Regions from separate parts of the Homo sapiens genome. Here region 2 is reported to be linked to region 1. Evidence: microRNA targets listed by miRTarBase, many of them from high-throughput screens and not tested one by one. Region 1 holds a microRNA gene; the other region holds the end of a gene's coding sequence.
What was found. The annotated mature microRNA hsa-miR-8085 reads UGGGAGAGAGGACUGUGAGGC and lies in region 1 at 1,129-1,149, shown strand. An mRNA with a match to its seed (bases 2 to 7 or 8) in the 3' UTR can be bound and repressed. Matches are read on the target gene's strand: a 7mer-m8 pairs with bases 2 to 8, a 7mer-A1 pairs with bases 2 to 7 and ends in A, and an 8mer does both.

Region 2: the mRNA of NECAB3 is a reported target of hsa-miR-8085. The part of its 3' UTR that is shown has no 7-base or 8-base seed match.

Annotation. Positions count from the first base shown.
Region 1 is chr19:44,757,539-44,761,665 of GRCh38, forward strand. It overlaps MIR8085 (microRNA 8085), which reads left to right and starts at 1,119; the gene lies at 1,119-1,183. BCL3 (BCL3 transcription coactivator) reads left to right here. Exons shown (of 9, transcript NM_005178.5): 6 at 108-185; 7 at 708-875; 8 at 1,186-1,303; 9 at 1,890-2,506. The coding sequence ends at 2,077. RefSeq lists an enhancer at 1,056-1,705.
Region 2 is chr20:33,654,093-33,658,092 of GRCh38, reverse strand. It overlaps NECAB3 (N-terminal EF-hand calcium binding protein 3), which reads left to right. Exons shown (of 12, transcript NM_031232.4): 11 at 60-151; 12 at 236-1,006. The coding sequence ends at 264. Among named protein-coding and RNA genes, the nearest start is that of C20orf144, 6.2 kb to the left of the region's middle. RefSeq lists an enhancer at 1,298-1,798.

The sequences.
Region 1 (4,127 bases):
GACCCAAGAGAGAGGCTGGACCCCGCGAATGGGATGTGGACGGGATGCGGGTCGCCGGCTGCTGGAGCAGAGCTTGGAGAAACTAAGACCTTCCCTCCCCGCCGCAGGACATTAAGAGCGGCCGCTCCCCGCTCATCCACGCCGTGGAAAACAACAGCCTTAGCATGGTGCAGCTGCTGCTGCAGGTGCGTACAGCCCCCCTGAGCCTCGCGCCCACCCTATCCTCTGACCCCAACCCGGCTCTGGCCTCAGCCCCTAGCTCTGACCCCGCCTTCCACTTCTGGCTCCGGCTCCTGCTCCGCGTCCAGCTCTGATCCTTTAAGGCCTAGTTTTCTCGACCCTCGGGCTCCACGCCCCTGGCTACGAACTTGTCCCATTCCTCCTCTGCCACCTCAACGGCCTAGGCCCCGCCCTGCGATGGCCTGGCTGACCCCGCCTTCCAGCTAGGCCCTGTCCACGCATTGTCCTTCCCCCCTCCAGCTCCCCCGACTCCTTGGGGCGCGGGCCTCGGTGTCCAGCTCCGGTTAATTCATCGCCGCCAACGCAGTCCCGCTTGGCCTGCCCTTGGCTCTCGCTCCTACCTTCCTGTGACCCCACCCCGATCCGGTGCCGCCCCACGTGCCGGCCACCCACCCGGGCCTCCAGCCTCTGTTCCCTTACCCCGGGTGGCCCGCGCGCCCTCCTGACCCGGCCCTCCCGTCCCGCAGCACGGCGCCAACGTGAACGCGCAAATGTACTCCGGCAGCTCCGCCCTGCACTCAGCGTCCGGCCGCGGGCTCCTCCCGCTGGTGCGCACGCTGGTCCGCAGCGGCGCTGACAGCAGCCTCAAGAACTGCCACAACGACACGCCGCTCATGGTGGCGCGCAGCCGCAGGGTGAGCCGGGGCAGCTGTGGACATGCCCCTTGCACACGTGTGTCCGCGGGCTGGTTGCAGGCGAGTGTGCCAGAGCGCAGAGGAGTGAGGGTGTCTGTGCCGTTGCGTGGAGGGGAGTGGGTGAGCCTCTGAAAGCGCGGGTGTGAGTTCCAGAAATGAGGAGAGACTGGCACCAAGAAAAAAAGTGCCTTGCCCATCTTTTCATACTGAGAAGTGGAGAGGCCACCACCTGGATCCAGTGAGCTAGGAGGGATGGGAGAGAGGACTGTGAGGCATGGGTGGCTCTATGGTCACGCCCATCTTCCTACAGGTCATCGACATCCTGAGGGGGAAGGCCACCCGGCCTGCTTCCACCTCCCAGCCAGACCCCTCCCCTGACCGGAGCGCCAACACCTCCCCCGAGAGCAGCAGCCGCCTCAGCTCCAATGGTGAGAAACCGTTCCCAACCTCCAGCCCTGGCGCCTCCTCCCTCAGACCCAGGAATCCCAACCCACAGCCCCTCCTCCCTCAGATCCAGGAGTCCAGGCCCCTAGCCTCCTCCCTCTGACCCAGGAATCCCAACCCATAGCCCCTCCTCCCTCAGACCCCTGGCCCCTCCTCCCTCAGACCCCAGCCCCTCCTCCTTCAGACCCCCCAGCCCCTCCTCCCTCAGACCTCAGCCCCTCCTCCCTCATACCCCCAGCCCCTCTTATCTCAAACCTCAGCCCCTCCTCCCTCAGACCCAGGAGTCCAGATTTCCAGACCCTCCTCCCTCAGACCTCAGCCCCTCCTCCCTCACACCCCCAGCCCCTCCTCCTTCTGACCCCCGGCCCCTCTTCCTTCAGACCCAGGAGTCTAGGTCCCCAGATGCCTCTTTCCTCAGACCCGGGAGTTTAAATCCCCAGCCCCTCCTCCCTCAGACCCGAGTCCAGACCCCCAGCCCCTCCTCCCTCAGACCCAGATCTCAGGCCCCAGCCCCTGCTCTCTGGGTCTAGCCTCTCACCACCCACCCCTCTGTCTCTCTTCCTTCCTCAGGTCTTCTCTCCGCATCACCATCCTCCTCACCCTCCCAGTCTCCCCCCAGGGACCCCCCTGGATTCCCCATGGCTCCTCCCAATTTCTTCCTTCCTTCCCCATCTCCACCCGCCTTCCTGCCCTTTGCTGGGGTCCTCCGAGGCCCTGGCCGGCCGGTGCCCCCCTCCCCAGCTCCAGGAGGCAGCTGAGGGGGATGGGGGGGCAGATCTTGGACTCATGAGGAGGGGCCCCCCTGCCCTGTGGGGTCAACCCTTCTGGAAACTGTGAAGATCTCACTCTGCCCCCCCCCCCCATCTTCGGGACCAGGATTTGCACAGAAGCACATGCACCTACCCATACACCCCCTCTTCTGAGCACAGATGTTCCCCCATCTCGCTCCCTCCCAGGACTCTGACCCCAGCATTCTCAGGCACCAGTCCCTGTCCGGAATGCCACCCACATCTTCCATTTCCATGTCCCCTCCCAGAGCTGGTGGACCCAGGGAACAGCCACTCCCCTCCACTCTCTACCAGATAACTGAGGAGGGGAGAGGTGGGCCGTAACGGGCACGGATCACGATGTAAATTATTAAGCATTTTGGTTGGATTTCTTTTGTAATAAACTATTTTTGTACCATATCCCTTGGGTGCATGGGCCTCTTTCATGAGATGGACCTGGCGGAAGTGCCTTCGTGTGTGTGCACACCCGTGCACTGAATCCAGTTGACTCCCAGAGTGATGTTGTGAGTCTCAGACAGACAATCTCCTGTGTGTCACTCTGGGACTTCTGGTGTGTTTGGTTGTGAATGTTGCCATCATTGTCACTGTACCATTGTTTCTAAGGAGGACGTGGTGTGTGATATCTTTTTTTTTTTTTTTTCAAGACAGAGTCTTGCTCTGTCGCCCAAGCTGGAGTGCAGTGGCACGATCTCGGCTCACTGCAACCTCCGCCTCCCCGGTTCAAGCGATTCTCCTGCCTCAGCCTCCCGAGTAGCTGGGATTACAGGTGTGCACCACCACACCTGGCTAATTTTTGTAATTTTAGTAGAGACGGGGTTTCACCATGTTGGTCAGGCTGGTCTTGAACTCCTGACCTCATGATCCTCCTGTGTCGGCCTCCCAAAGTGCTGGGATTACAGGCATGAGCCACTGCACCTGGCCGGTGTGTGATATCTTTCCAGGGCACCCTGTTGGATTCCGTAGTGACCCTGGGCATGTGTGTTTCTGTAGTGTGGGGGTCCTGGTGATAACCCACAGCTGACTTCAGCCCCAATCGTCTCTGGCTGTCCGAGTGCGTGGTGCTTGGGAGTGTTCCTAACATTGAGATCTGGGGTGATGCTGTGATTGTTGCCCTGTGACTGCCTCACATGGCGTGAGACAGTTTTACTTAGTGGTTCCATGGGGCCCCTCTAATGGACCACATCTGTGGTTTTGTTGTTGTTTTTTTGGGGGGGGATGGAGTCTCACTCTGTCACCCAGGCTGGAGTGCAATGGCGTGATCTCGGCTCACTGCAACCTCCGCCTCCTGGGTTCAAGAGATTCTCCTGCCCCAGCCTCCAGAGTAGCTGGGATTACAGGCACCCACCACCATGCCTGGCTAATTTTTGTATTTTTAGTAGAGAGGGGGTTTTGCCACATTGGCCAGGCTGGTCTCAAACTCCTGACCTCAGGCGATCTGCCTGCTTTGGCCTCCCAAAGTGCTGGGATTACAAGCGTGAGTCACCGCGCCCAGCCACACATCTGTGCTTTGACTCTGGGGTATGCCTCTGTGTGTCAGTCGGGGTTTGTAATGGTTTCCTGTTGCCACTATAACAAATCACAAATTCAGTGGCTTGAAATGATGCTAACTTTTTTTTTTTTTTTTTTAAAACAGAGTTTCACTCTGTCACCCAGGCTGGAGTGCAGTGGCACAATCTCAGCTCACTACAACCTCCACTTCCCTGGTTCAAGCCATTCTCCTACCTCAGCCTCCCAAGTAGCTGGGACTACAGGCGTGCACCACCACACCCGGTTAATTTTTTGTATTTTTACTAGTCACAGGGTTTTGACATGTTGGCCAGACTGATCTGGAACTCCTGACCTCAAGTGATCCACCCACCTCAGCCTCCCAAAGTGCTGGGATTACAAAAGGTGTGAGCCACCGTGCCAGCCAAACAATACTAATTTATTCTCTTACAGTTCTGGGCATAAGAAGTCCAAAATCGGCCGGGCGCGGTGGCTCACGCCTGTAATCCCAGCACTTTGGGAGGCCGAGGCAGGC
Region 2 (4,000 bases), not on the chromosome of region 1:
GGCAGCAGGATGGGGCGGGAGTGGGGAGAGCGAGGTCACTGTAGCCTGGGTCTCTGCAGGCACCAGCAGTCGCCTGGCAGCAAGGCCTTCCAGCGCATCCTCATCGACCACCTGCGGGCCCCGGACACCCTCACCACTGTGTTCTTCCCAGGTATGCGGTGGACCCCCACTCACTGTGGCCCTGGAGGGGCAGTGGGCTCCTGAGGGCTCCTGACCCCCTGCCTCTGACCCCCAGCCTCCTGGTGGATAATGAATAACAACTGAGCCAGACCTGCACACGCCGAGGGCCCCGGGACCCTGCCTGCCTCCCTCTGGAGCCTTCTGGACTGGCCAGCCCAGCGCAAAGACCAGGACTTGTCTCCTCCTGGACTTGGGCCTGGTGGAAGGGCTCTCAGCCCAGGGATCAGGGACTGGGCTGCTTGCTTTCTATTTATTATTGATTTATTTATCCCTGTATTTTATTGTTTGTCACTTCAGCCTCCAAGCTACTTTGGCTTCTGCCTGGCTCAGGAGACCTGGATTCTGGTCCCTGCTGTCCCTGCCTGGCTGAGCGACCCAGGGCAGGTCCCGTCCCTGTCTGGGTGGGCCTCAGGCCATCTGGCCGCCTAGCGAGGGTCCTGCTTTCTTCCTGCTGTCTTGGGACCAGGCTTCTGCTCCTCCTCAGCCAGCGGCAGAAGCAGGGCTGATGCTCAGGGACCCCCCAACCCTCAAACCTTGCCTCCGAGGCTGGGCCTGAGCTGGGTGCCCCGTCGCCCTCCCAGGCCACTAGGCTCTGACTCTTCCAGCACCCATGGATGTGCCAGAGGCCTCTGGGTTGGTTTGCATGTCATTTGCATATCGTTTGCATGCCCTCATCCCACCCATTCTCAGGGCAGTATGGGAAGCCCCAAGGTGACCTGGCCAAGTAGCAATAATTTGGGTCCAGGGTCACCTATTGCCCCCAGAGGCCTCTGAACCCCAGGCTGGGACCCCAGCACAGAGGCAATAAAGGCAGTGGTCCCTTCCAGTGTTGCCTCCTGTCTCGCAGGTCTGGGCTGTGGGGCCTGTGCGCCTCCCAGGCCAGAAGCTCCAGGCAGGGCACCTCTCTTGGGAAGCCCCCGGGTTCCCACCTTGTGCCCTCACGCTCGCAGAGTGGATGCTCACAAGAGCTGACGCAAGTTTTCCCACTTCAGGGTCCCTGGCCCTGACACACCCTGGTGCTGGGTCCTGCCTGAGGGAGGGGGTGACGTGTCTCTGCAGGTTTTATAGGGGTTCTGGCTTCACCCACACAGAGCCTCCTCTGGGCCCAGATCGCTCCTGTGGGAAGACCTGTCCTCACCAAGCTGGACTTGTCACTGCCACCCCACATAGAGTGGTTCCAGTTGGACAATGGCTGAGTCAGTCCTACTAGCCCCTGGGGGTGTCCTCCTGCCCCCCTCCATTACTGGGGGCATGGAGGGGAGGTGACCAAGAGGGACATCTAAGCAGCTGCTCTGAAGAGGAGGCCCCTGGCACCACAGAAGCACAGGATGGCATTTGACCTGGCCTGGGAGTGTTGGCGTCAGTTTTCCAGACAGAGGAGACGGCACATGGGCTCTGAGGAGAAGGAGGGCTTGCCTGGTTGAACCAAGGGTGACCCAGTAGCGGGGCTGAGCTGGGGGTGCCAGGGGGAGAGGGCTGGGTGAGGCTGGGCCTCTGAGGTGCTACATCCCAAGGAGGCCATGGGAGGCTTTAATTCGGGGTGAGGGGGTGGCCGGTGGGTTGAGTGCCCTTTCCATGTTCCTGAACGCCCTGGTGTTGCCAGGTCCTTACTGGGCTGAGGCCTGGCTACAAGGCAACTCAGATGGCACCAGTTCAGGGTGGGCATTCCCATCTGGGACTCCAGGCAGGGTCTTCCCTGCGGTTTCTCCCTGGCAGCCCCTGTGGGAGACAGTTTCTTCCACCAGCCTGGCTCCCTGGGCCACCTGCACAGAGGTCCCTGCTGGCACCCTGGCCAGTCCAGTGCCAGGCCGTCCTCCCGCCACCCCGCTTCCCAGATCTCTGGGAGCTCCTAGAAAGTGCTGCCACCATCTGAACCACATGGGGCTCTGAGCAGGCTTGAGGCTTGTTCGGGTGTAGTTGTGTGTGCCTGTAATTCCAGCTACTTGGGAGGCTGAGGCAGGAGAATCGCTTGAGCCCAGGAGGCGGAGGTTGCAGTGAGCCAAGGACTACAGGCGCACACTACCACGCCCAGCTAATTTTTGTAGAGATGGGGGTTTCGCCATGTTGCCCAGGCTGGGCAGTGTGTCTTGTTAGAGAAGACAGCTGAGGAGGACATCGCCCTGCTTTACGTCCTGTGTTGTAAAGGCTTCTTTTGTCCTCCACAAAAACTGTAGCAACAAATCCTCAAAACTAAAAAAACTTCCCTCTGCCATCTTTATTTATTATTGTTATTTTTTGAGACGGAGTTGCTCTGTCGCCCAGCCTGGAGTGCAGTGGTGCGATCTTGGCTCACTGACCCTCTGCCTCCTGAATTCAAGCGATTCTCCTGCCTCAGCCTCCCCAGTAGCTGGAATTACAGGCACACACAACTACACCTGGCTAATTTTTTTTGTATTTTTAGTAGAGATGGGGTTTCACCATGTTGGCCAGGCTGGTCTTGAACTGCTGTCCCCAAGTGATCTGCACACCTTGGCCTCCCAAAGTGCCGGGATTACAGGCATGAGCCACTGTGCCCAGCCCACTGCCATCTTTAGACATGCCCAAGCCCTCAGGCTGACTTATCTGTGGTGGGCGTCTCCTTAGTTTTTGTGCCCTGGGCACCCTGCCTGCCTCGCCCTGCAGTGCAGTTCTGAAGGTGGACACCTCTTTATTACAATTTTTAATAAGAAAGGCTGTGTCCTCCCTCCTGAAAGCTGGAGCTGCAGAGGAGGGCACGCAGGCAGGGATGTCCAGCAGGGTCAGGGGGCCTCTTAGGACAGTGTTTGGTTTGAGCTGTGGAAGTAGAGCAGAGGTCTCCGGGCAGGTGCGAGGGCAGAAGGGATCCTTGGAGTGTGAGGGCTGGGGCGAGCTGAGGAGGCCGGGTGCATGGGAGTGGAATGTTGTCTTGCAGGTGACAGGGAGACAGGAGGGTCCCAGACAGGGAGTGGGTGGGGGTGGAGCTGAGCGCAGACATGGCTGGAGCTGCAGCCACAGAACAGACGTCTGAGCTGGGCTGGGGCTGTGGGGACCTGGAGGAAGCCCTCAAGCCTCTGCCTTGTCTGTCGATCTCACGAGCCCACCTCATCTGTAGCCTGCCATCCCCACCATTGTGCCTCGCCCCAGCCCCCAAGTCAGGGCCACCGTCCTCTCTGGCGTGGAAGACTGCAGCAACTTCTTTACCTGGCTCCCACCCCGTCCATTCCCTGTAAAGACACAGCCAGAGGCGGCTTTCGAAATGTTGCCATTTTGAAAAACGCACCTCTGGCCAAGACCCTTCAATGGCACCCACTGCCTTCAGCATCAAGGTCATAATTTCATGTCCTGGCAGCCAAGGCTGGGCCATTTACAACCCCAGTCACCCTGTCTGTGGCTTTTGTCCCAAGCCACCCGTCCGCCACAGAAACGCTTCCACTGTAAGGAGCAGGTGAGTGCCATTGTGCTGGGGCGCCTTTCCCAATCCTGCGCTGGGCACCTGCTTTGTGGCAGGTGCTGGGGATGATCAAATGTTCTGGGCTGGTGACAGCACTCGGTCAAGGGCAGGCAGAGCCCTGAAGTCAGGAGAGCTCCGGGCTCATTGGCCAGCTGCCGCCCCCACCCTTCCACCCACTCCCTGCACCTGTCCTCTCCCCTTCCTCACACCTGCACCTGTGACTCACCTGTAAATATTCAAACCTGTCCCAGGGATTGGCTCAGTGCCAGGCCAGGCTGGAGATAGCAACAGTCTAGATGGTGGCCAATGCCCTACAGCTCTCCTAACAAGTCCCCTTAACACAGTCTCTTATGAGCCGAAAGGGACTGAGAATTAGGTGGTCTTCAAAAAATTATTCTCGAAACATACTAC